Homo sapiens: one gene and its partners. The protein of the gene in region 4 interacts with the protein of the main gene of each other region in a biochemical or structural test. Each region holds a gene or a part of one and is shown on either strand. Other genes may lie near its edges. The genes, in order: PPARG, RNF20, RNF40 and KIF11.

Region 1 (7,027 bases), on a different chromosome or scaffold from region 4:
CCCTTTTCACTGTATTAGGTTGCCTTTAGAGTAAAAACTGTTTCAATTGAAGGGACTTTAGAGATCATGTAATTCAGTGTCATTTTATTTATTTACTTATTTATTTATTTATTTTTGGAGTTAGGGTCTTGCTTTTGTGACCCAGGCTGGAGTGCAGTGGTATGATCATAGCTCACTGCAGCCTTGAACTTCTGGGATCAAGGGATCCTCTTACCTAAACCTCCCAAGAAGCTAGGACTACAGGCATGTGCCACCATGCCTGGTTAATTTTTTAAAAATTTTGTAGGGATGGGGTCTCACTATGCTGCCCAGACTGGTCTTGAACCCCTGGGCTCAAGTGATCCTCCTGCCTTGGCCTCCCAAAGTGTTGGGATTAGAGGCGTGAGCCACCACACTCAGCCACAATCATTTTATAGATGAGAAAACCTGGGTAGGATGTGGTTAAATACTGATGTATGAAAACGTTACCTCATACAGTATTTGGCATGTAGTAAGAATTCAATAAAAATCAGTTTCCTTTTTTGGCCCACCATCCATTTAGGAACCAAGATGTCCTAAAACTTTCCTAACTGTTGTTCTGTATCTTTACGTTGAATAAAAAGCCCAATAAGCAGGTATTTATTTTATAAAGTGAATATTTATGAACAGTTTATTCTGTGCAATGCGTATATAATAAATTAGTACTATTTTTGCATTGTGTATATTAAAATTATCTTAAAAGACTGCATATCAAAATATGAGTGGATTCACATATTTTCTTAATAATTAAGCAATAAATTACTAAACGTCTGAATTTTCCAAAATACCCTTTTCACAAAGGAAAGAGATGAGGATAAATAGTATCTCCTTTCCCACACTGTTATACCTCCTTACCTGTCCGTGTATGTGGCTCACATTGATGCTGGAATAAGGAAACATGAGGCACTGCTTTGAGAGCCAACACCACCTAAGGAGTCAGGGTCTAGACTGCGGTCTGCCACTTACTAAGGGATGACCTTGGCAAGTTTTACTAACCTGTAATTTCTACATCTGCAATGTGGCCATAAAGAAGTCCAATCTTATAGGATTGCTCTAGGGATCCAAAGATATGCATATATAAATAATCTGTAAAATCTTCTGTCTATACAATATTACACGGTATAGCAAAATAAATAAATAAATAAATAAATAAACAACTAGAGAATGCAGGAAATCTGCATCCTGGTTCCAGGTCATCACTGTCTTGCCATGACACCTTGGAGAAGTCACCTTTTTGTAAAAATCTGCAAGATGCAAGGATTAAATTAGATCAGTGTCTCAAAGAATCAATTTGGAGAAACAAATGTGGGGCAAAGCAGCCCAACTTTTATCCACTTTCTTAGGCTTTCAAATCTTATATCATCCTTTGGGAGGCTGAGGTGGGAGGATCACTTGAGCCCAGAAGCTCAAGGCTGCAGTGTGCTAGGATAGCACCACTGCACTCTGGTCTGGGTGACAGAGCAAGATACTCTTCCATGAAGAAAAAAAATTCATATATTGTATCACCTAAAAAAGGGGTTCTGCTGAAATGAAATAATAAAGTTTCAACAATTTCTTTGAAGACTTTTTTTTTAATTACCTTGCATCCTTCACAAGCATGAACTCCATAGTGAAATCCAGAAGCTTTATCTCCACAGACACGACATTCAATTGCCATGAGGGAGTTGGAAGGCTCTTCATGAGGCTTATTGTAGAGCTGAGTCTTCTCAGAATAATAAGGTGGAGATGCAGGCTCCACTTTGATTGCACCTGTGTATGGAGACATGTGAGAGGATAATTATCCCATGAAAACAGTCCTAAAAAGGCAACAGGGCAAGCCACCATAGTACACCTTCATGCTGTATTTGTATTGTTTCAGTGTAAAAGCACAGTGGAACATGAAAAAACACTGGAGTTAAGGCAAGAAAAAGAAAGGTTTGTAATCACAGGCAAGTTATAACATCTCTAAGCCTCACCTGTAAATATAAAATGGGAATGAGAATTAAGTCTGTGGTTCTATGACCCCCAGTAGCCTGCAATACTACAGCTGTAACAGACAACATAGAGGATTTGAGACAAGGAAGCTTATTTTGCTAGGAAATGTTCTGTCTTTGGTATTCATCACAATATTAAATTATACATTTTATTTAAATATTCCATTTTATAAGTACTTTGAAACAACTTGCAAAAGAACCACAGAAGGAACACCACTGTGAAAAGGTCATGGTATGCCTAGCTTGAGGTGCATGAAAAATATGAGCCCAGGTTACCATTAGTGTTCAGTCAAAGGAGGTGGTTTGTGAAATAATCTTTGACAGAGCGTGGCGGAACTTATGGAAGTAAGCCCTACCTTTTACTAGTTGGGCTCAGGGCTACTAAATTTCCATATTAGGCTCTAACTGAAAACCGCATAGATAAATATAACTAAGCATATTATTTATCTTTAAAAGCCACTAGAAATACAGGAAGTTCTTACTTGTCAAGTAATGATTGCCAATTACATAGTGGTGGCTTTGGAAAACCAGCATGTCAGCCCACACATGATAAAAATCAAGGAAATAGCATCACAGAAATACATTTTATCTCAAAAAGTGCAGTTCTAGTTTTTCTTGAGTCTGATGTTTTGATGTTGATTTAGTTAATGGCATGAAAATTTATCAATAGGCTACAATGTTAAAACAAATTTGTGCTTAAAAGTAGGTTTCAGTATAAACTCCTGAAAGGACATACTAGAAAAAATGTACTGTAGTAGCAGTAATATAGTGAAGATAAGTTATATAATACAAAGTGACTTGGAATTGTTACTTATTAACTTATAAGGGGCCAAAATAATTCAAAGTTTGGATGATGGACTCTTAGCCTGAGATACAACTGACAGTGTAATCAAGGTAGAAAATGTCCCTAAGAAGGAAGTAAGCAAGAAAGGAAAGAAGAGAGGAAGGAAGGAGGGGGCGGGGAAGGCAAGATTGACCTCGTGCCAGCTCCCTTCCTGGCATTTCATAGATACCTAATATTTCATGGATAAATGGGTGAATAAATGAATGGTGAATGCCTTCTCTATTAGATTTCTAGTCTCTGGAGCATTATTTATTACAGGGTTACTGAGAGATGAGTCCAATTCTAGTCCTAGTAGTCTGAAAAGTGAAAATAAACATCATACTTTGGTACTCTTGAAGTTTCAGGTCATACTTGTAATCTGCAACCACTGGATCTGTTCTTGTGAATGGAATGTCTTCGTAATGTGGAGTAGAAATGCTGGAGAAGTCAACAGTAGTGAAGGGCTTGATATCAAAGGAGTGGGAGTGGTCTTCCATTACGGAGAGATCCACGGAGCTGATCCCAAAGTTGGTGGGCCAGAATGGCATCTCTGTGTCAACCATGGTCATTTCTGAAAGGAAAAATAGACTAGCTGTGAAGTTAAGTCCTAGAGAACACAGCAATCTCACAGAGTTTCAGAAAGAGAAATGAAAAGAGTCTTTGGCAAAGTAATCTCATCTGGGCGCTCACAACAACAGAAAAGAACATAACCACCTTCTTAGTGCTGTCTAGGCTGTTTTATGATAGAAAGGAAGTCACCCTTTACCCAGGTATCATAATAGAGGATCCTGAAACAGTGCAGATACATACAGTGTATCCATATAAATGCCTTTTTGCCAACAGGCCTGCTCTCATTAACTTCTACATTAGGTCATCAATTGAGTCTGTTAATGACTGCTGTTATTTATTTAAAATTTTGTCCAGCTTTATTGAGTATAATAGACAAAAATTTTTAAACTTAAGGTATACAGGCCAGGCACAGTGGCTCACACCTGTAATCCCAGCACTTTGGGAGGCGGAGGCAGGAGGATCACCTGAGGTCAGGAGTTCGAGACCAGCCTGGCCAACATGGTGAAACCTCATCTCTACTAAAAATACAAAAATTGGCCGGGTGTGGTAGCACGCCTGTAATCCCAGCTACTTGGGAGACTGAGACAGGAGAATCACTTGAACCTGGGAGGCAGAGGTAGCAGTAAGGTGAGATCACACCACTGCACTCCAGCCTGGGTGACAGAGCAAGACTCCACCTCAAAAAAAACCTAAACCAAAACAAAACAAAAAAACCCAAAAAACCAAAAAACAAACAAAACACTTAAGGTATTCAATGTGATGTTTTAATATACGTATTTACTATGAAATGATTATCATAATCAAGGTAATGAACATATTCATCACTTCACAGTTACCTTTTTGAGTATGAATATGTGTAGTGAGAACACTTAACATCTACTGTCTTAGCAAATTTCAAATATACCATACAGTATCACTAACTATAGTCACCATGCTGAAGGTGACCTATACTTAGCAGATGATCACCTTAGAAGGTGACCAGAGCTTATCCTGCATAACTGAAACTCTGGCTGATATCTCCCCATTGCTCTCACCCTCCAGCTCCTGGCAACCACCATTTTACTCACTGCTTTTATGAGTTCGACTTTTTTAGATTCCACGTGGATCATGTGGTATTTGTCTTTCTGTGTCAAATACCACCCAGTTTAATTCTCTTAGCATAACGTCCTCTAGGTTCATCTCTGTTGTCGCAAATGACAGGATTTCCTTCTCTTTTTAAGGCTGAATAATATTCTATTGGGTGTGTACATATACATCTGTATGTGTATATATGTATGTGTGTATATATATACAGATATATACTGTGTTTTCAAAAATCCATTCATCCATTGACACTTAGGTTGATTTCATATCTTGGCTATTGCGAATAATGCTGCAGTGAACATGGGAGAGCAGATAGCTCTTCAACATACTGATTCCATTTCCCTTGGATATATACCCAGAAGTAGGATTGCTAGATCATATGCTAGTTCTATTTTTAATTTTTTGAGGCAGTCCATTCTGTTTTCCATAATGACTATACCAATTTACATTCCTGCCAACAGTGTACAAGGGTTCCCTCTTATCCACATCCTTGCCAACACTTCTTATCTTCTGTGTTTTTGATAACAGCCATTCTAATGGGTGTGAGATGATATCTCACCGTGGTTTTGATTTGCATTTCCCTGATGATTAGTGATGGTGAGTACCTTTTCATATATCTGTTGGCCACTTGTATGTCTTCTTTCTAGAAATGGATATTCCTTTATCATTTTTTAACTGGGTTATTTGTTTTCTTGCAATTGAGTTTGTTGAGTTTCTTACATATTTTGGAATATTAATTCCATATCAGATGTACGATTTGCAATCCATAACTTCATATCAGATGTACAGATTCCCCTATTCTGTAGGCTGGCTTTTCACTTTATTGATTATTTCCTTTGTGGTGAAGAAGTTTCTAGTTTGATGCAATCTGTTAATGATTGTTTTTAAAGTGTGCACAGGGTTCCAGGACAATTTTACTCTCTTGAAATTAGAAGCCCAAAATATTTTTCTCTTTAGGATGAAATTTTTGCTATTCTACTTGTATTTATAATGCTTTTGTGTAATAGAAAAGTTGGCAAATTAAATTTAGGTAAATGAACTTCTTCTTTAATTGCATCCTAAAATAATTTTGTTCTTAAAATAATACAAAAATAAAAAAATTTTAAAGGGAAAAATCACTCAATTATTACTTCTGTACTATGAAAAATTACTCAATAATCTTTTCTGTGGATACACCTTTTCTTAAAGCGGAGAAAGTTTTCCCCACATTGAGAATAGAAAGGTTAGAGAGATATGTGGAAACATTTGATCACACCCGAGAGTGTCAAAATCAGACTCTAGCCCAGCATTAATTTTAAACCATCCCCAAAACAAAAACAAAACAAAACAGAGATAGAAACAAGAAAACACATAAAAGACAAAGGAAAAATGCTTACATGGATTCTAAGGCCACAGAATAGCAAGTTTCATGAATCATTTGCCCAATATCATGTATGCCACATGCATTTTTCTAAACATGATTTATTGTCACAGTAAGTGCAACAAAACTCTTTTGGTTCACTTCATGTGAACTTGTGAGCCACCGAGGGTGCAGACTGGAAAACTTTCTGCAATAGGTACCTGGACTCTGTTTACCTGACACCAGTTCATTATTCAAAGTGGTGCCAAAAAAGCAGTCATAGGTATTTTAAATGTTAACTCTGTGGTCAAAAACACCAGTGGAGAGCTGTGTAAATTTAGGACTGCTCACACGGGAGACAGAGATGAGCTGCTCATAAACTCCAGGATTCATCAAATCATAGGCGTATCTTTCTTGTTTGCAGTCATATCCCCACTGGCTAACAAAGGGCTTGTCTCATAGTAGGTGCTCGTTAAATATTTATTTATTAAATACTAAATACATTGATGACTTAATGAGATAGCTGTGAAGTTTCAGCAGAAGGGGCAGGGAAGGAGGGAAGCAAATTGGTATTGATCAAGCACTTCCCATGTGCCCGGTACATCCTACCTTTTCTTCTGCATAATCTGAAATATTATTCCCACTTTATAGATAAGCAAGCTAGGACCAAAGAAGTAAAGTGAATTGTTCAAGGTCCTCTAGCTAGGAAGTAGAAGATGCAAACTCAAGACTGACCCTGAAACTCTCTTCTGTATATACATACTCTCTTGATTCTCTCATTGATGAAACAGGCTTATGGAGGAGGGGCCACTCTCCTCTGTGTATCTGTGCATGGGCCTCTTGCTTTTCCTTTTTCTTTTCTTTTATTTATTTATCATTTTTTTGGAGCAATTTTATTTTAATGCTCTCACTTTAACACCACTTGCTTTTTCTTACCAAGCAGATTGCCAAGAAATTCACTCCAAAGGCAAACTTTTGCATGAGTTGAAGATTGAAGATTTCGGCTGTCATCTTCATAAGAAAAAATGCCCTGAGGCCGGGTGCGGTGGCTCACACCTGTAATTCCAGCACTTTGGGAGGCCAAAGAGGGTGGATCACCTGAGGTCAGGAGTTCGAGACCAGCCTGATCAACATGGAGAAACCCCATCTCTGCTAAAAATACAAAATTAGCTGGTCATGGTGGTGCATGCCTGTGATCCCAGCTACTCGGGAAGCTGAGGC
Region 2 (7,027 bases), on a different chromosome or scaffold from region 4:
TATACTTTAACGCAAAAAGGATAACAAAACACGTCACTTGATTTTATTTCAGACATGTTTCCATATTAGCAGATCCATATTTGACAAGTACACTGTACTCTTTTGTAGGAATAACAGTAGAGATGTATAATTTATTTACCAATACCCTAATGATGAACATTTAGTTTTCAAATTTTTTTCCAATCACAAAAATGTGCCACAATAATCATTCTTTTACTTATATCATCATGTAGAAAGCACCCTATTTCAACAGAATAGAAAGCTCTACTCATCCTAATTACCTGAGTCTTCAGAGTCAACACCTGGTCTGCCAGCTCCTCCTTCTCTTCTTTAAGCAACTTATGGATCTGATTGGACTTGATACGCTCTGACATGAGCTTGAAATTTGCATCATCCTTCTCCCGCAATTGCTGCATCAAACGGATATTTTGCTCCTGCATGTCTTCAAAGGCCTGGCCTGTGACATCCATTTCAGAGAGGAGTGCTTCTTCTTCCTAAAGGATGAAGGAAGAGATTTGATTTTAGAAGAATCTTCCAACTTCAATGGAAGAGCACAGGAAACTAAATTTTCCCACTGTTCATTTAGATATAAATTAATTTAGTGACAGAGTTTTAAGAAGTTGTGTTTTGTCACTAGGCATACAGAAGCTCTATTATCTGAAGTCACTGGCACCAATTGTTGGTCTGATACTTATTAGTTGATCTGTACTCAACGTCAGTTAAATTAGACAATAATTGTATTTACCTTAATCTAGACAAACGGATCAAGCAGCAATTGGTTAAGAGTACTTCCATCATAACCTCTCACATTTTCTCATGCTTTTCCACAATTAAAATACTGGATCTACAGGATTTCCAGCAGTTGCAAACATCTAAAGCCTTGTAACAATCTGATAGGTGAAGACTGGTATCTAATAATAGCTTTACTTTATATCTATCTCATTTTAAGTGAGACTGAGCATCTTTTCATATGGTTAAGACCACTTGTATTCTTTCCATAACCAACTCATTTCTTTTGCCTATTCTTCCACTGGATTCTTGAGTTTTTTTCCCTATTTTGGAGAGTTTTTTTTGTATCAGATAAGCCTTCTTTGTAATAAAAGTTAAAAATATTTTTTACTTTTTGTCATTTAATCTTTTGGCTTTGCTAACAGTGTTTTTTGCAGTGTAGAAGTTTTGCATCATTTTAAAAAATAACTCAAAATTATCAATTTTTTGTTCATGTTTTCTAGCCTTTTATTCATAGAAAGGTCTCCACTCCAAATTATAAAGGAATTTAATGGTTTTCTTCTAGCTTTTTGATGGATGCATTTTTTAAAATATCATATCTATGATCCATTTGGAAATCATCCTAGTGTATTCAAGTATGTATCTAACTTTTCTCTAACATTATTTTTTTTAATTTTGTCCCATCACATGTCACAGTTTTTCTTTTCCCCACTGATTTAAAACTATGTATTTAGCACATAATAAGTATCATGTGTACTTTCAACTACTTCTCAAGTTTCTATTCAGTTCTAATAGCCTGTCTAGTAGTCCCAAGCTATTTCATCTACAGAAACTTTATGTTTTAATATATGGAAGAGACCCCAGTGCTGTTCTTTTTCAATTTCTCTTGTTACTCTTGTTTACTTCTCCACATGTACTTTAAAACCAGTTCTTCTAGTACCAAAATAAACAAAAGCAAAACTTAAAAAAAGCACTTTTATGAGATCACATTATATTAATACATAAACTTAGAAAGACTGAACATTTTTAAGATAGTCATCGTATACAAGAACATAGTGTCTTTCTTTTTACTTGTTCTAGAACCTATAATAGTATAATTTCCTGATAATTACCTTAAGAGAGAGGGAAGAAAAAAAAAAGTGGCATTTACCAGATTTAAGAAAAGTCAAAATTACACTTTTTTTTTTTTTGAGATGGAGTTTTGCTCTTGTTGCCCAGGCTGGAGTGCAATGGCGCCATCTCGGCTCACTGCAACCTCCACTCCTGGGTTCCAGCAATTCTCCTGCCTCAGCCTCCCAAGTAGCTGGGATTACAGGCATGCGCCACCAAGCCCAGCTAATTTTGTTTTTTTTTTTTTTTAATAGTGATGGGGTTTCTCCATGTTGGTCAGGCTGGTCTTGAACTCCCGACTTCAGGTGATCCATCCACCTCGGCCTCCCAAAGTGCTGGGATTACAGGCATGAGCCACCGCGCCCAGCCCAAAATTACACTTGTTAACAAAAGGAATGTGTATAGGATCTAATGAAGTTCTTCTTTTCAAGGCACTTCATGATCAACTTACCATTAAACCTACTCCATCTCACTGTTATTTTGCTATTTCTTAGAAACAATGAAGGTGTACTAACAGAGAATACATATATGGTTTTTTCAAGCATTTTCAGTATCTTTATTATTGAATTTTAATAAAAATTCCCTGGCATTTAAAAATACATACATATTCATTATAAGGAGGAGAACAATCTCTATAGTTCTATGACCCCAAAATAGCCATAGTTAACATACTGCTTAATCAATGTTATTATATTGGTTAATAGATTATATCCTTATTATATATAAATCACATATTTATAAGCATAGTTTTTCTGTGTAGTATATGTACTACATAGAAATATATAATGATATATATTTATAAGCATAGTTTTCTTAGTTTCATATATTTGTAATCATAATGTATATAAAATCTTATGTCTTATTTTTCATTTTATATTCACTATAACCCTTAATTCCAGGTCAGCAAAGAAAGACTAGATCTTCAATAACTGTCTGAACAACAGCAGAGAAAGACTAGATCTTCAATAAATGTCCATTTAAATAAAAGTAAATTTCTTGCCTCACAAATACACAAAACAAAATAACAGAAAGATAAAAGACTTGAAGGTAAGAATTAAAACACACACACAAAAAGGAAAAATACACATTAACAATCAAAAAAAGACCAAAATAAAAAAGCAAATTTCACTGGCAATAACTTATTGTCAAGTAACATTTACTCAAAAAGTCAATTAAATAAAGAAAGTGAGTCCACCTGCTTGGCCATGGCTAGCTTCTTCTGTAGGTATTCTATCTGCTCCTCCACTGCCCGGATCTTCCTCAAGGCATCCTCATCAGCCATTTTCTTGTTCTCTTTCTTCTCTTTATCTTCCAGATCCTTGAGTCTTTGCCTTAGATCTTCCAACTATAAGAGGAAAGGAATTGCACAAAAATAAAAAGTTATAACACATTTTCAAAAATCAATTAATACTGTGCAAAGATAGAAGGTTCATAATACCAAAAGAGTCTTTACAGAATTATAGAACAAGGTACATAATATACTAAAACATTACATAACACCATCTGTTTTAACATCACTCCATTCTACTATGACATGCTTCTATAAGCAACACTTTTGAGAAGTGCACAGGTAACTTTCTTTAGAATAGTGGTTCCCATCCTTTTTTTTAGGCCTCAAAATTTTAAGAGCATAAGACATTCCTCCCAAAAGTAATGAAAAAGATTATCCCTGTAGCAATGAATTACATAGGAAAAACAAGGAATACATACTTTGGAAAGCCTACTCATAACCCCAGTAATTCAGATATATTTTACCATCCTATGGAGAGTTTTAAAATCTCTACTTCAGATGGTCTTTGAAAAGGCAGAAAATGTTGCACTTAAACACTTATTTTAAAGATAAAGAAAGAAATTATATCGTTGGCAAGTATAAAGGAAAATCCCACAAATGAAGATTTTAACCAGAAGGACAGGTAATAGCAGACTAGAATACCTCTGCCTTAGACTTCTTCTCAGCTGCCATCAGCTGAACTTTGTCTCTCTGTTCCTTTGGGGCAGAACGGTACATATCCAGCAATAGTTTCATCTCCTTTTGGCTCTCCTGTGCCTTCCTATGACAGGCGTAGTAGAGGGAGGGGAACAATGTAATAAGAAAATAAAGGTCATCAGAGCAAGGGAATTTTGATTGAGCAGAATATTTTAAAACAGTTTCATTTTACATTTCATATCACACCTAAAAGATAAAATTTTGCACAGACTATCAAAAGACTTTTGGATATGCTTAGAAAGTACAGAAAAGTAAGCTGTATAAAAATGAATCATTTCTCCCTTCAAAGTCCTCTAACAAAGTTATAAAACAGACATTTGTGTACTTGTTATATAGGCAAATTTCTGTGGCCCCCAACCCTGGGTAACTGAGATTCAGTAGGTCTGGGGATGGAGTTCAAAAATTTAAACAAGTGATTTAAACAAGTCACTCAGATGATTCTGATACCACACCAGAAAAAAAAAAAATTGCCTTAAAGAGTTCAAGAGGGAGAAATAAAAGGGAAAAATTTGAAAGTCTGAGATATACTGTTAATCCTAGATTTGACAGCTGAGTGATTAACCATCAGCCAAAGACTAAAACTTCACCTCTTATTAAATTACTAAACCTCTTAACTATACTTTTATATACCAAAAGAGTTCAAGCATTTTGAGCACAGTGGTCTCTCAAGTCCAAACATCAACAAAGGATCAACCATAGAAAGTAAGGAGCAAGAAGTAAGCCGTTCTGCCAGAGAAGTTATTGGTTATACAGGAGAAGGGCCAATGCATAAGGTTATGACACAGAAAAATTCAACAAGTTAAAGGTCTATCTTAGTGTGTCAATGTGTATAGGAGTAAATCTCCTAAGAAAGATATGGCATATTCACAAACCAGTTAACTCTCAGGCAAATAGATCAGATATTGTTCAAGTTACAGTGATATATAAATACTCCACTTAATATCATTTAAATTACAATTAACGCCAGCAATCTGCTCAAATCCAGTGAAGAGCAGTAGTTAATTCCCAATAATTCTCAGAAGTATTACCTCAATCATGACATCCTTTTCCTTAATTTGGATTCATAAAAATAAGGCTACCATCATCGGTTTGCTGATACTCGATCACTGAACCAAAGTACTAAATAGCCATGCAAGCCATTTTGGCTGTGCACTTGAACACGACTTGAAACCAAATTAATTGTACAATCTAAAACATTAAAACGATCAGACAAGCCATGCCATCAACCAAACATTTCATGCATGATGTCTTAATCTTAGCTTTTCAGTCGAAACTGTTACTCTAAATGTGGTTCTTACTTGAGTTCAATCTTCAATTGTTTGATAATTTCTGCTTCCTTTTTCCGTCCATCATCATGTTTGCCTTTCTCTTTATCCTTAGCAGAATCTCTCTCTTTTTCTGACTCTTTTAGCTTCTGCTTCTCTCGTTCTCTCTCCTTCTCCTTCTCCCGTTCTCTTTCTCGTTCCCTCTCCTTCTCCCTCCTTTCTCGTTCTCGTTCTTCTTCATCCCGTTTAGACTTGATTTCATTGGCATCCTCCTGAGATGCCTTTGAAGCTGAGGACTGGGAGGATAAGTCCTCAGAATCTGGTTTTAGCTCCGCAGGCTCATCCTTCGGGTCCTCAGTACTAGACTGGGACTGCAGGAGGGCACTACCACTACGCAGGCGTGTCTGGGAGAATAAAGAAAAGAAAGATGCACATCTCTTATGATAACCACATTGCCGACCTCATTCAAAAGCAGCTTTACGACATTAATAGCAAATGATATTTATTCTATTCCCTCTGGTTACCTTGTTCAGGTCAGACTGGGCTTCTCTCAATTTCCGCTTATATCTCAGGACCTCCCCTTTCAGCTGGTGATTGTGATTCTGGAGGCTACTGATGAGGTGGCGCATCTCCCTGTTTATAGGGCCTTAAATACAGGAACAACAATGTTATGAGGAACCGTGGTAAGGGCAAAGGCACAAGGAGAGAAAGAACAGAACACATCAGGAGGCACTGAGAAATAGGGAGAATTACCAAATAAAAGATTCCTTCTCAGAAGATGAAAACAAAACTGGTCAACTTGAGTTAAAAAACAAACATCCAGGCTGTGAACCAAAATGAATTATAGGATTTAAGGTACTTATGACTTCTGAGTTGAAGTCAGCATTAACAAACCCTGGGGTCTGTGTTGTATCTTTCAAGGAAGGTATTAAGAGCAAACTACAGCATGGAGTGAGAATCATTATACCTGCTTGTTCATTGGCAGCAAGGGTCTGCTCAAATTCTATCCTCAGCATTTCATACTCCTTGCGGACCTGGGCCAATGTATCTTCTAGCTGAATTACTTCAGTCCTCAGCTTCTTATGAAGACTAACCTCATCTCGCTACACACAGATAAAGGAACCAATAAAAAAATTCTTATTAAAATGTAGAAATATCATCATATTCTATGGATTACTCTGAAAATTTCCAGTTCAATCTATACGTAATGAAACCAGATATCTACAAAAGACTAATTTGGAAACTGACAGGATACTGAAAAATAAAGAAAATGGCCACCAATTCTGAGAATATTAGAATTTAGTTGGAGAACTAAACTATAAAACAGTATATAAACATATGTAAAATAGTATTCAATTCATTTGTCAGGCATATATTAAAAGACCAACTATTATAACCATTACCTTAAAAACTATGGAAGATACAGAAATGAACATATGAATAAAAGTTTCTATCTTTTAAAAAAATCATCTACTGGTGCCATTATATGCTTTTTGTTTAAGAAATGTAAGTAATTTTGCAGCTTCTACCCACTATTTTCTCACATACACGTAAGCTCTAGCCATATTAAACTATTTCTCATGCTCTCTCATACCTTTATATGTGCTGTTCTCATGCCGGGAATTCTTCTTCTCCTACTTTCAACTACCAATAATTTATCCTTAATATTTATACCTTACTTTTTTAAGTGGAATCAGGAAACTTCCACAGTCAAATCAGACACTCTTTTCTCATGTATCACATCTTTTGGCTATGCTGCCATTGTACCACATTGCATTCTAATGGATACTATTCTCCCATTACTGCAGACTACAAGATCTGTGAGGGCAGGAATTTTGTCATCTCATCTTTATATGCCCAGTACCTACCAGAGTAAAGACCTACTGCCACTCTATGAATGACAGCTGAATGAATGAGAGATTAATTGCACATGAGG
Region 3 (7,027 bases), on a different chromosome or scaffold from region 4:
TTTGACTCTGTGACCACTGTGCTGCCCACTTTCTGCTGCCCTACATTACTTCCAGGGTCCCCAGACTCTCCACTAGTCTCAGCAATCCTGCATCTACAATTCTCAGGTGGATAGGGCACAACTTGGCCCACAGCCCCACCTTGTACTCCTTGATCTCCTCCTGGAGGATTTCGTCGGCATCTGCGTAGACCTCCACCTTCCTCTGCTTTTCCAGCTTGCGCCGCAGCCGTGAGATGTCCTCCTGGGGCAGGAGAGGCCTGGCTAAGGGCAAGGGTCCTCAACCTTGAGCCGCTTGCCCCCAGGATAGGTCCGTGACCGTGGACCACCCTGGCCTGGCCCCTCACCCCTGCACACACCTGAGCCCTCTTGAGGTTGAAGCTCTCTTTCTCACGAGCAGCCCGGCTCTCTGCCAGGCAGGGCTGGATCTCCCGCAGCCGAGTCTGCACGTGCTCCAGCTGCACCTTCAGGTCCTCGGCCAGCTGGGCGGCTTCTACAGCCTGAGTAGGGTGGAACAGGAAGGAGGCACTGGTCTGAGCCTGGTGACTCAGGCATGTGGAGTCACGGCCCACCAATGCTTCTGTCCAGGGCCCCAGTGACACCTGCCCTGGAGCTGCTCCTGCCTCCTGAGCCCTAAGCCCTCCCCTCCTGTTCTCCCTCTCCAGTTCCTCCCGTGTGATGCTGTTTTTTGGGGTTTCTTTGTTTTTTGTTTTTTTGAGACGGAGTCTTACTCTGTCCCCCACGCTGGAGTCCAGTGACACGATCTCAGCTCACTGCAACCTCCGACTCCTGGGTTCACACCATTCTCCTGCCTCAGCCTCCCGAGTAGCTGGGACTATAGGCGCCCACCACCACACCCAGCTAATTTTTTGTATTTTTAGTAGAGATGGGGTTTCACCGTGTTAGCCAGGATGGTCTAGATCTCCTGACCTCATGATCTGCCCGCCTCGGCCTCCCAAAGTGCTGGGATTACAGTCGTGAGCCACCACGCCTGGCCTGCTGTCTGGTTTTTGAGCTTTCACAAGGCTCTCCTCTCTGCTCCCCTCAACTTCCCCACCACACATGCAGCTCCCCTGGGCCTCAGCTCAAGTGTCACCTCCTAAAAGGCTCCCCTATTTTTCTTTGACAGCACCTCAGATTCCTGCACAAGGCTTACTGTGACATGCACTATTTTATTTGGGGGATTACTGGCCTGCTCTGCCTGCCAAGACCTGAAGTTCCAGCTTTGACTGGAAGGCAGGGACCTTCTTGTTCCCAATGTCTCCACAGCAATCAGCGCAAGGCCTAGTACATAGCAGGGATGTAAAATATGCTGCTTAAATGGGCCAAGCACAGTGGCTCACACTTGTAATCCCAACACTTTGGGAGGCCAAGGCGGGCAAATCACGATGTCAGGAGTTTGAGACCAGCCTGGCAAACACAGTGAAACCCCGTCTCTACTAAAAATACAAAAATTAGCTGGGCGAGGTGGCAGGCTCCTGTAGTCCCAGCTACTCGGGACACTAAGGCAGAAGAATCGCTTGAACCTGGGAGGCGGAGGTTGCAGTGAACTGAGACCGAGCCACTGTACTCCAGCCTGGGCAACAGAGCTAGACTCCGTCTAAAAAAAACAACAACAAAAAAACCACAAACATACTGCTTAAATGAATGAACTAACTGGAGAAGAAAACAGCTTCAGAGGAAATGGAAATCAATGTTAATCTTAAGCCTTTAGCCAAAGCTAGACATTTCTTCTATTTAATACAACTATGTGACAAAGAACATCATCCCCACTTTACAGTTCACCAGCGAGTGGTTAGAAGGTAGAGCCTGGAGTCAAGGAGGCTTGGACCCAAATATTAGGGCCACTCCCTCTTGAGCAGAACAATCCACCTCCCTGAGCCTCAGTTTCCTTATTTATAAAACGAGGCTAAAAACAAAATCCAGCCAGGTGCAGTGGCTCACGCTGTAACCCCAGCACTTTGGGAGGCCAATGTGGGTGGATCACAAGGTCAGGAGTTCGATACCAGCCTGGTCAACATGGCGAAACCCTGTCTCTACTAAAAAAAAATACAAAAATTAGCCAGGCGTGGTGGTGCGCGCCTGTAATCCCAGCTACTTGAGAGGCTGAGGTTGGGAGAGTTGCTTGAACCTGGGAGGCGGAGGTTGCAGTGAGCCGAGATCGCACCACTGCACTCCAGCCCGGGCGACAGAACAAGACTCCAACTCAAAAATCTTTTGTTTTTTTTCCCTAGGGACAGAGTCTCGCTCTTGTCACCCAGACTGCAGTGCAGTGCGATCATAGCTCACTGCAGCCTCAACCTCCTGGGTTCAAGTGATCCTCTCACCTGTCAGCCTGCTCGAGAAGCTGGGACTACAGGCGTGCACCAGCACACCCAGCTAATTTTAAAATTTTTTTGTAGAGATGGGGTCTCACTATGTTGCCCAGGCTGGTCTCCAACTCCTGGCCTCAAGCAAACCTCCCGCCTCTGTTTCCCAAAGTGTTGGGATCACAGACGTGAGCCACCACGCCCGTAAACACCATCTTGATAGGATTAGTGAGACTGAAATGTGACCAAGCATGTCAAGTACTCAGCATGTGGTCTGGCACATGTAAATGTTCAATATGTGTGAGCTGTTCTGTGACAGCCTGGCTTCACCTCAGGCTATTGCATCGGGTGCTCTGAGCAGAACCGGAAGGTGAGGAGGTGAGCCAGCAGCCCAAGCTGTGTGTCCCCCTGGCCCAGCCTCACCTTCCGCTTGTTGAGCTCCAGGGCTTGGCTGCGCAGCGTCAGCTCCTTCTCCACACCCCCGAGGCTGCCCTGCAAGGCTCGCTCCTTCTCCTCTAGCTTCTGCACAGTCAGCAGCTGGGCATCCACCTAAGGACCAGAGGAGGACTCAGGGCCATGACCCCCACCTCTCCAGCTCCAGTCTGCAAGCTGGCGGCGGCCATACCTGGGACTTGAGGCCAAGGACCTGCTCGCCCAACTCATCCTTCTCCTCCCGCAGCAGCTTGTGAATCTGGTTGGCCTTGATCCGCTCTGACATTAGCTTAAAGTTGGCATCATCCTTTTCCCGCAACTGCTGTAGCAGCCGCCCGTTCTGTTCCTGCATGTCCTCAAAAGCCTGACCTGTCACATCCATCTCTGAGAGCAGAGCCTCCTCCTCCTGCAGCAAGTGGGCAGAGACAAGATGGAACGTGGGAAGTGGACAGGATGGCTGTGGGGGAACCATGGGAAAACGCAGCGAAGCAAAGAACTACAGAGGGGACCCAGATCATCAAGGTCCTGCAGGCACTAGAGGCACCAAACAGGGTATGAAGGGAACTCCCTGCGCTCCGACGCGAGGGCACCACATGGGCCGCACCTGCTTGGTGGCACCCAGCTTGCGCTGCAGGTGTTCTATCTGCTCCTCTGCCTGCCGAATGCGCCGCAGGGCATCCTCATCCGCGATCTTCTTGCTCTCCCTTCGATCCCTCTCCTCCAATTCCCGGATGCGGCTCCGCAGCTCATCAACCTATAGCACAGGGAAGAAGAAACTCTCTTGACACTGCTTCCTGCTGAGCTAGGACTCTGCTCTGCCTTTCTGAATGCCCCACAAGCCCCAGCTGCCCTCACCTCGGCCTTAGCCTTGCGTTCCGCTGCCATGAGCTGCACCTTATCCCGCTGCTCCTTGGGCGCTGACTTGTACATATCCAGCAGCAGTTTCATCTCCTTCTGGCTCTCCTGGGCCTTCCTGGCAAGAAGGTACAGGAGGAAGTCTTAGTGAGTGGGACTGGAGGCCACCTGGCAGGGTCAGGAAGGAGACAGGAACAGAGCCTCACTTGAGCTCTGCTCGGAGACCCTTGAGGAGTTCTGATTCCTTCCGCTTGGTTTCTTCCACCTTGGCCTTCTCCCGATCAGCCCTTGAGAGAGCGGAGGCTACAGGTGGAGGTCCTAGGCTGGGACCTTCCCGTTCCCGAAGCTCCCGCTTGGGCCTGGCCTCAGGTTCTCGGCCCCGGGAGGAAGGGCCCTGGGCCCCAGGGGTTATACCCTGGAAGTCCTCTTCAGAGGGGACCAGCTCCTCCTTCTTCACTGAAGTGGTAGTAGTGGTGGTGCCAGGCACTGGAGCCATCTCCTTTCTGTTGTCGGGGGTACTGACAGGGCCTGGCCCACCCTCCTCTTTCCCTGGGGCTGGGGCACTGACGCCAGAATCCTCTGGGTGGCCCAGGTTGGGGGTGGAGTGGGCAGAGCCACTGGCCTGGGCCCGGAGCTGCAAAGGCAGAGAGGAAGAGGGATGAAGTCAGATGGTGTTCACTGGAGTCTAGCCAAACCTTTTCCCAGGCAGGCCCCTTCTCACCTTGCCAATCTCAGCTTGTACTTCTCGAAGCTTCCGCTTGTATCGCTGGGCGTCCCCTTTTAGCTGGTGGTTGTGGTTTTGAAGACTACTAATCAGGTGGCGCATCTCACGGTTGATGGGCCCTGGAGGAGCATCAGCAAGTAAAGGTGTCAGAACCAGTTCCTGGGTTAGGACTCCAACCCCTCAGTGGGGTAAGAGGCTATGCCATCACTCCCACTGTGCAGGAGGGGAACATTGCGGCCTCAACGGAGCATGAACTCATCAAAGTAAATAATGCTGACTTCAAGGAAACTCACCCAAAATTAACTTGACACTGCCTATTCATACGATTTTTGCTAATATAGAATATGTGGGGTTTTTTGTTTTTTTTTTAAATAGAAACAGTGTCTCACTTTGTTGCCCTGGCTGGTCTCAAATTCCTGGCCTCAAGTGATCCTCCCACCTTGGCCTCCGAAAGTGCTGGGATTACAGACATGAATCACCACACCTGGCCTAGGTTTTTTCTTTTTTTTTTTTATACATCCAATTCCCTTTAATAGAGAAGGTAACTGTAACATTCACAAAAGTTAGTTAACTTCTTCTAGATTCTTAAATATCACCTTCCCAGTACATTTCCCTGGCCTCCTATTCAAAATTGCAACACCCTTTCTCCTGATACTTCCTATCTTCCTTTTCTGCTTTACTTTCCTATCTGTCAAGAGCTAACACATTTTCCATTTTTCTTCTACTAGTTCGTCTTCCTCTAGTCTGTCTTCTATCAGAATGTTGCTCCACATGGCAGGAATTCTGTTTTGTTCACTGGCATAACCCCAAACCCTAGAACAGAGCCTGGCTCAGAGGTGGCATTTGATAAATCTTTGTAACACAAGTATCTGAGAGACAGAGACGTCATCAGACCAGAAGAATGAGGACAGGGCTGACAGCTCAGACTCTGCATGTGCCTGCTCCATCAGCCACCCCAGCTGGCGGACCCTCACTGTGCCTGGGAGCCAAGCAGTGCAGGCCCTGTTTTGCATAGGAAGCCGAGGCTCTGTGAAAAAAAAGGCCTTAGCCTCTTGCATCTGGATAAGCAGCAGCCCCACACCAGGGCCCAGCACTCCCAGATAAGGCCCCACCTCCGCCCTATCCTCACCACATACCCGCCTGCTCGTTGGCCGCCAGATTCTGCTCAAACTCGATGCGCAGCATCTCATACTCCTTGCGTACCTGGGCCAGCGTGTCCTCCAGCTGAATGACCTCTGTGCGTAGCTTCTTCTGCAGCCCCAGCTCGTCGCTCTGTGGGTTGATGTGTTAAGGACCCACACAGCCCCTCGGTCCCACCTCAGGACTCAGTATCTTAGGAAGAATCTATTCCCCAGGGACCCCTGGCTGGCACACAGGGCCTCGGAAGGCACAAACACGTCAACACTAACGGTTTGGCCCTTAGCCCAGCCCTAACGCCTGTTCCAGGGCCATACCTCCATGTGCTCGATGTGTCGCAGGTGGGAGTTCTTTGTGGCCAGCAGCAGGCCCCGAGCCTCGTCTAGCTGGGTCTTCACTTGCAGAGACTCGTTGTAGAGCAGTGAGAATTGGGCCTGCAGCATGCGGTACTCCCCCGTCTCCCGCACTACCTCCTCAGGAAGGCTCCGCAGGGCCACCTGGGGCAGGGATGCCCAAATGGGATCAGCAACAGGATTCAGGGCTCAGTCCCTCCCTTACAGGCCCAGGACCTCTCAGCCCCTACAGCAGCCCACCTTGAGGCGCTCATTGGTCCGCACAGCCCCCTGAAGTTCGGCCTGCAGTTTCTCCAGCTCTGCCATACGGCTGTTGGCCAGTTCCTGGTTTTCCTCTAACTCTGCATTCAGCATCTCAAACTAAGGAGTGGGAGGCAGGGCCATGGGAGGCAGGGCCAGACGTGGCAGCAGGCCTCCCTTACATCCCCAGCATACACTCCACCCCAAGCACCCCGTGCAGGGCAATGATCGATTCTGACACCCCAAACCAAGTACTTTCCTAAGGGCTCCCAGAAAAATGGGAGAAAATTCAATACTGCATGGTCGGTGCTGGGAACTAAGGCTCTTAACTGATGGGGAGTCACGGAAGGCATTCCAGAAAGGCCTAAAGTGCTAATAAAGGGAAAAAGGGCACAGTGACCACCAGATGCCAACTGACTCCAACTCACTCTTAGCTCTCTCTTCTGTGCTTTATCTTTGTGGTACTCATAACACACTGATATGCTATTTTACTGATTTCTTGTCTGTTACCACAAGTAGAACCTAAAGATATATTCTTTTATTTATTTCTTGTCTGGTCCATGAAAGTTTTGACCTCTATTTTGTTCTCGCCAATATGCCTAGTGCCTAGCACTAAGTGTTCAAAAATCTACTCAACAAGTATATGAATGCATGAAAAAAAGAGCAGCAGGAGTGACCAGGAAGGGCCTCAGAGATGGATGTTTGTCCTTTGTCCTGAGGGGAATTTCAAGAGTGCAACAGAGAAGAGGTTGTGAGAAGGGGTGGGAGGAAAACGCCGCTCACCTTCTGCATGCTGAGTGTGATCTGGCCCCCCTGGAAGCCTGAGGAGCTCCCAGATACATAGTAGCCAGAGTTAAGCTGTGGAGAGAAAACAGACAGGCAATGGATGTAGAGGGGAGGAGCTAAGGCCCAAGGGCCCAGCCTTGCCTCACCTGCCCCAGCACCCCTGCCCCACCTGCTCTAAGGCCTCTGCCAGGTGC
Region 4 (7,027 bases):
AAACAAAAAAACAAAACAAGACATACACACAAAAAAGGTACAAGCAGCCAGGCGCAGTGGTTCATGCCTGTAATCCTAGCATTTTGGGAGGCTGAGGTAGGAGGGCTGCTTGAGGCCAAGAGTTCAAGACCAGTCTGGCCAACATAGCAAGACCCTCTCTCTATATATATTTAAAAAAAAAAAAAAAAAAAAAAGGTACAAGCATATGCATCTCAGAAGTAGAACTTCAACTGTAAATGTAGATACCAATGTCCTACGTAAGGAAATTTTTCCTTCACACACTCTGTCTAGGCTTGTACCCTCAAATTAGAGGAAAAGATACCAGCACTTTATAGAGCCTCACTTGGAAGTTGTATTTCATTGGAATCCTCCTACTTACCCATAGAGAACATTAAGGGACTGGTGACATTGATTGTGTACTCAGTCATCAATGCTGAGATGAATCATAAACCAACTATGTTCTCAACAGTGTTAAAAAGTGGGTAGGAGGGGCCGGGCCGGTGGCTCACACCTGTAATCCCAGCACTACGGGAGGCCGAGGCAGGCAGATCACCTGAAGTTGGGAGTTCGAGACCAGCCTGACCAACACAGAGAAACCCCCTCTACTAAAAAAAAAAAAAAAAAAAAAAAAAAAAAAAAAAAAAAAAACAAAATTAGCCAGGCATGGTGGCACATGCCTGTAATCCTGGCTACTCGGGAGGCTGAGGCAGGAGAATCACTTGAACCCAGGAGGTGGAAGTTGCGGTGAGCCAAGATCGTGCCATTGCACTCCAGCCTGGGAAACAAGAGCGAAGCTCCGTCTCAAAAGAAAAAAAAAAGTGGGTAGAGGGCTGGGCACAGTGGCTCACGCCTGTAATCCCAGCACTTTGGGAGGCCGAGGAGGGTAGATAACTTGAGGTCAGGAGTTTGAGACCAGCCTGGCCCACATAGTGAAACCCTGTCTCTACTAAAAATACAAAAAAATTAGCCAGGTGTGGTGGTGCATGCCTGTAATCCTAGCTACCCGGGAGGCTGAGTCAGGAGAATCACTTGAACTCAGGAGGCGGAGGTTAAGTGAGCCAAGATCGTGCCACTCCACTTCAGCCTGGGTGACTCAGTCTCAAAAAAAAAAGAAGAGTGGGTAGGAGAGGTCACAGGATTTAATTACACTGGATTAGAGCAGGCAAGGTGCTCAGGAAACATGGGGCAACAGTTTACAAGAGAAGAGCCTCAGGCAGGAGAAATCACTAATATAACCTAAGAGGCCTCCAGTCTCTCAATCTTTTCAATCACTTTGCCTTCAAAGTCTGATTATGGGCAGAGATAGGTTCCAAGACTTACATGTCAAAGGTAGAAGGAAGAGAAATGACTGCTCTCAGTGTCTGAGTATATAGCAAGCAGAAAAGGAATAAATACAATAGCTAAAGATTATCAGCTAAGGATGTAGATTAAGTCAAATTCTGCCTTCATTTATTCTACAGAAAACCCCTTATCAATATCAGATTTTTGTAAATAATTCAAATCATAAGCGTTAACAAGCCATCCTAAGGAATAATTGAAAGGTTTTTGTTGTTCTGCTCACCACGAACAATACCTTTATAATGAATAGTAAATGAATGACTTACATCAGATGTGGAAGGGTTATCTGATATGACATACCTGGAAAAATGGAACCCCGCCAATTGATGAACAATCCACACCAGCATCTACAGATGGCTCTTGACTTAGAGGTTCTTCAGTATACTGCCCCAGAACTGCCTCTTCTACATCCACATCCTAAAAGAAGAAACTGGATGAGTGACTAAGTCCAAGGGCTTAAAAGTCATCACAAGAGTAACAGCAGCTTTGAGTATAACACAATGCCCATGGTATAATATAAAAGTTAAACCTCAACAAAATTATTAGAAAGTCTACAAATTAATGAAAATAATTCCTAATATATTTTTATAGAGAGTAGAGGTTCCTATATAACAATGTTACTAAGCACAATATTAAGTATTGGCTATTATTATCTACTAGCATAATTTAAAAACTAGTAAGATTAAAAGAAACAAGCCTAAGGGCTAGGCCTATCATTAATGAGAGGCGGGGTAAGATTGAGGGGTAAACAGTAAAATTCTTCACATGAAGTCAGCCACATCAAGAGTTCATAAAAGAGTTCTATTATAAAATATGATCCTTTAAATTTACCGGAATTGTCTCTTCTTTGTTGTTTTCTGAACAGTTTAGCATCATTAACAGCTCAGGCTGTTTCCTTTTCAGCTGATCAAGGAGATGTTCACGTGGTTCAGTTCTTACCAGTGTTGATGGGTATAAATAACTTTTCCTCTGTGGTGTCGTACCTTTAACGGACATTAGATAAGAGGTAAAAATTAAAGTATGAGATGTAAATATTTTTAAAAAAACCTAAAACTTCCTAATTAATCTTGTCTTCTAAAAATATAAAAATATAATTGCCATATATGAGGATCAGTCTTGCTACCTGTCAGACATTGTTTGCAACTAACAATACTTTCTAATTTGATGACAGACTTTACTGTTTTCAAGATTCATCCTACTCTCTAAAACATGAAGTTTACCATCTCTGAGGATATATAAAAGATGTGTTATAAGCTCTAAAAGGAGTTATAGTGTTCTGAAAAAAATGGCAGCATTATTGGAATGAGTAGATTTCCCAACATGATTACTTTGATAGGAGTAATCATTTCACTATAAATGTGGTGTGGTGGTTAAATATTAACTAGTTATATACATATACTATGTTGCCCAGGCTGGTCTTGAACCCCTGGGCTCAAACGATCCTCCTGCCTTGCCTCCCGAAGTGCTGGGATTATAGGTGTGAGCCACCGCATCAGGCCCCCAGTTATATTTCTCTGTAATAAGCTCATGCTCTCATGATTTACAAAAGTACTTGCCTTTTCACTCAACATTTACATTCCTAACTTCATTGAAAAGTAGACAGTAAATCCTACAGGTCTCTTGGGGAATAAATAAACCAACATTCTATGTAGCACCATCCCCTTTTAACAATTGCTTTTTAAATTAAAAAAAAAAAAGAGTTTTGTGATATAATTTACATACCATAAAACACTCATTTTATGTGTACAATTCAGTGGATTTTAGTGAGTTTACAGGGTGTGCAACCATTACCATAATCCAATGAAGAACCCAATTATTCATGCTGTGTAAAACAGCTTGTTACATCTCTTCCATGAAGACCTCCCTGAATCATTACAGCCTATAATGATCTTTGCCATATGTGATCTCTCAAAATGTTGATTCCTAAATGCTAATGGTCCATGGTGATCCCTGATCTCTTAAAACAGGGATTCCTAAATGGCAATAGTCTATGACAAAATGAGAGGGACACAGAACAAAATGCACAATGTGGTAAACTTTGCATTAAACTAGATTTAGTCAGTTACATCTCTCCCATATTTGTGGTATTAAAATGTCCTTTTACAAACAGTGCTAGGTTTGTATTTGTTTTAAAAAATCCCCTATTAACAAAGTCAACTCCCTGAAAGTATGTGAAATTATACTGAATTGTGATACCACCTGTATCATGACACTTGATTAAAACTATTTTAAGGTTCCAGTTTTCCCATTTTGAGTTGATTACAGTGAGATGTTAAATTTCTGTCAGGCAATGGCAGGACCTAATTTTTCTGAACATCTGACACTACATAGAGTTGAATTCGACTTCAAAAAATTTAACAATTCTATTTCTCTTTTAAAGTACCTGTTGGGATATCCAGTTTCAGATCCTGTTCCAGAAAGCAATTAAGCTTAGTCAAACCAATTTTTATGGTTTCATTAAGTTCTAGATTTTGTGCTATCAATTTATCTTCATCAATAGTCATCTGATCAAGAAAAATGTTATGCTGTTTCTCATGAGCTGCCTTACGTCCATCTGATTTCTCAGTGATGTCTGAACTTGAAGCCTCACAACATTGGCTTACAACCTGTAAATGATGCAAATAAATATTTATTACTAAAATTAAAGTTGCCAGTGTTTTATTCAACATCATATTTTCCCTTACCTTTTCCATAATTTTTTTTTTTTTTGGAGACAAGTCTCACTCTGTTGCCCAGGCTGGAGTGCAGTGGCATGAGTAGTGCTCACTACAGCCTTGACCTCCCAGGCTCAAGCCATCCTCCCACCTCAGCCTCCCAGGTAGCTGGGACTACAGGCATGTACCACCATGCCTGGCTAATTTTTGTATTTTTTGAAGAGATGGCATTTCACCATGTTGCCCAAGCTGGTCTCAAACTCCTGGGCTCAAGCAATCTGCCCACCTTGACCTCCAAAGATTACAGGCATGAGCCACCACACCTGGCCTTCAGTAATAAAAGATTTAAAAACACATACAAAAGTAGAGAGAACAGTATAATTAACTCCCTTGTATTCATTACCCAGCTTCAACATTTACCAACAAGTGGAGTACAGACATTTACCAACAGGACTGGCCACTCAACTCCTCCATAAACCCAGGATTATTTTGAAACAAATCCTGTATCATTTCATCCATTTACTTCAGCATGTATCTCTAAGAGGTAAGAGCACTTTAAGACCACTATCACATCTAAAAAGGTTAACACTGATTCCTTCCTATCAAATGTCTAGTCCATGTTCAAACTTCACCAGTCGTCTCAAATGTGTGTCACAATTGCTTTGTTTGAACCAGAATTCACCACTAGATTTGGTTCATAGGTCTTAAGTCGGTGACTATATAATTTATCATCCAAATTGGGACACCTTTTGGAGTGAAAGGGCCCATTCTTAATAATCATTCTAATACAACAATATCAACAAGGACTGTCTCAGGCAAACTAAGACTTAAGGACCTCTAGTCTTAAGTCTCTTTTGATATACAGGTTATTGTTTCTCATATTTTTTCCCTTGAAAAAAAAAACTTGTTGCTGAAGACATGAGGTCTTTACCCCATTGAACATCTCAAATTCTGGATTTGGTCAACTGCATTTCTATGCTTTATTTTCTACAAACTGGTTAGACCTAAAGGCTTGATTTAATTCAGGTTTAATTTTTTAGCAAGAGTATTTCATAGGTAGTACTGCAAGCACAAAATGCTTTGCTGTGTCTCTCATGTTAAGATTTATCAGTGAGTTCAGGTATGGTTAGCCTATTAATTATAAAGTTCCCCAACAGCTTTTGATCAAATGGTTTAAGCCATCATTAACATCCACAGGGGTTATTTTATTAAGAGTTGCATACTGGTGATATATTAATTCTATCATTTCTTCTCCATTTTATTAGCTTAGAGTCTAATGAAACACTTTTCTTCATTACCCTGCTAAACCAAGATATGGTTCTTTTAGGAAAGACAGATGGATGCTAAATTTTTTCTTCTTCTTTACCCATTTTCAGGACAATGTGTTGCTTCCCTAGCATGATCCAAAGGAGACCTATGAAATTTTTATGAGTTCGTAAGTTTTAATATATTTGATATGTTTTAATCCATTATGGCCATTATTCTTTTTGATGCTCAAATTATGCCACCTTTGAAGATGGGGAGGTTGGCTACTAAGACCTTTTGACAACCTCAGAAATCTTTAACAGCTTCCTTACTCTCTGGTATGACAAGATCTCTAGGCTCATATATTATACATTTCCTATCACAAATCTGAAATTAGCTATTTGTATACAAACTCTAGTTCCTTTTAGTGAAAACAGCTTATATAGATTAAAAATTTTAATTCTTTGTACCTACTTCCTGAGAATGTTAGTAAAATCCTATTAATGCAAAGAAAGAAAAAACCAAGTTACAAAGGGCTCATGCAAGCGTTAAGTTCAAGCAAATCCATAAACCTATCAAGTATCCTTTAGTTACCAGAACAATAACCTAAATACTTAAAATAATAATAGGTTTGAATGTACTTGGAGAAAAGTAAAAAGCAAAGATAGGCCGGGCGCAGTGGCTCATGCCTGTAATCCCAGCACTTTGGGAGGCCGAGGCGGGTGGATCATGAGGTCAGGAGTTTGACACCAGCCTGGCCAATATAGTGAAACCCCATCTCTACTAAAAATACAAAAAAATTAGCCGGGTGTGGTGGCAGGTGCCTATAATCCCAACTACTCGAGAGGCTGAGGCAGGAGAATCGCTTGAACTTGGGAGGCGGAGGTTGCAGTGAGCTGAGATCGTGCCATTGCACTCCAGCCTGGGCAACAGAGTGAGACTCCATCTCAAAAAAAAAAAAAAAAAAAGCATATATAAGTGGAAGGTATTACATATCAAAAGACAGGGTGCCCTTCTTTGAAGAAACTACTAAGTCAGAAACCAAGGATAAATACAGGAAAGAAACTGTACAAATGTTAAATTAATTCCAAGATTGAGAAGACATATAACAAAGCACAAAACGAGATCATCTGTAAGCATACCAAATATTATACTTAAAAGTTTAAGTCATTATAGCTTAAAATATCATTTGTTTTGAAATCTATTCTTAGCCAAGAATATTTAACTTTCTGATTATTATTCTCCCCAAAGTAAGTTCCACTTACAAAGTTATTACCTCCAATAAGTTGTGAAGTTCCTGTTCCCTTTCATTTAAGGAAGATACCCACTGTTCAGAAAAATAAACTGTTCTTGTGTTCAGAGATTCACATCTCTGTTCAGTCTCTTGAGATATTTTTTCCAGGTTGCCATTGAGTTTATCAGAGTGTTTCACAGATTCTTCAACCAATTTTGTACCTTCTTGGTTAAAATTTCTGAGTTCCTGTGAGAAGCCATCAGAATCAGCACAAAATTTTTGACTGTGAAAAGTCATTTTGTTGACTATATCCTTAGATTTCCTATAGGAAAAGAGAATGACACTGTTGAAATGGGGAATTAAGACTCAAAGGATATATAACTTCCCAAGATCACTCAGCTCTTAAGTGGCAGATCTGAACGTGGACAGTCTGGCTCCAGGGCCCGTGATCTTAGTAAATCTTCTGCATTGAGAATGGATGCCTTGGCCACTGTCTTTTCACAGCATTGCCATTAAATGACCTTTGAAAGGATCATCTTTGCTCATGAAACCTTTC

What was found.
Region 1: the proteins of KIF11 (region 4) and PPARG interact in a test that uses a peptide from one of them, tested with the Homo sapiens proteins (one study listed by BioGRID).
Region 2: the proteins of KIF11 (region 4) and RNF20 form a complex in vitro, tested with the Homo sapiens proteins (one study listed by BioGRID).
Region 3: the proteins of KIF11 (region 4) and RNF40 form a complex in vitro, tested with the Homo sapiens proteins (one study listed by BioGRID).

Annotation. Positions count from the first base shown.
Region 1 is NC_000003.12:12,376,062-12,383,088, reverse strand, and holds part of PPARG (peroxisome proliferator-activated receptor gamma), read right to left. Parts: intron 3,386-7,027; coding exon of another isoform or gene 3,378-3,385; coding exon 3,158-3,377; intron 1,768-3,157; coding exon 1,598-1,767; intron 1-1,597. UniProt on the Homo sapiens protein: Nuclear receptor that binds peroxisome proliferators such as hypolipidemic drugs and fatty acids.
Region 2 is NC_000009.12:101,550,851-101,557,877, reverse strand, and holds part of RNF20 (E3 ubiquitin-protein ligase BRE1A), read right to left. Parts: intron 6,195-7,027; coding exon 6,059-6,194; intron 5,738-6,058; coding exon 5,616-5,737; intron 5,496-5,615; coding exon 5,125-5,495; intron 3,891-5,124; coding exon 3,773-3,890; intron 3,185-3,772; coding exon 3,035-3,184; intron 495-3,034; coding exon 282-494; intron 1-281. UniProt on the Homo sapiens protein: Component of the RNF20/40 E3 ubiquitin-protein ligase complex that mediates monoubiquitination of 'Lys-120' of histone H2B (H2BK120ub1).
Region 3 is NC_000016.10:30,765,303-30,772,329, reverse strand, and holds part of RNF40 (E3 ubiquitin-protein ligase BRE1B), read right to left. Parts: coding exon 7,003-7,027; intron 6,906-7,002; coding exon 6,831-6,905; intron 6,168-6,830; coding exon 6,048-6,167; intron 5,952-6,047; coding exon 5,772-5,951; intron 5,590-5,771; coding exon 5,454-5,589; intron 4,437-5,453; coding exon 4,315-4,436; intron 4,228-4,314; coding exon 3,800-4,227; intron 3,712-3,799; coding exon 3,594-3,711; intron 3,493-3,593; coding exon 3,343-3,492; intron 3,145-3,342; coding exon 2,932-3,144; intron 2,856-2,931; coding exon 2,730-2,855; intron 498-2,729; coding exon 357-497; intron 242-356; coding exon 140-241; intron 1-139.
Region 4 is NC_000010.11:92,645,129-92,652,155, reverse strand, and holds part of KIF11 (kinesin-like protein KIF11), read right to left. Parts: intron 6,794-7,027; coding exon 6,514-6,793; intron 3,945-6,513; coding exon 3,722-3,944; intron 2,322-3,721; coding exon 2,170-2,321; intron 1,756-2,169; coding exon 1,639-1,755; intron 1-1,638. UniProt on the Homo sapiens protein: Motor protein required for establishing a bipolar spindle and thus contributing to chromosome congression during mitosis. Required in non-mitotic cells for transport of secretory proteins from the Golgi complex to the cell surface.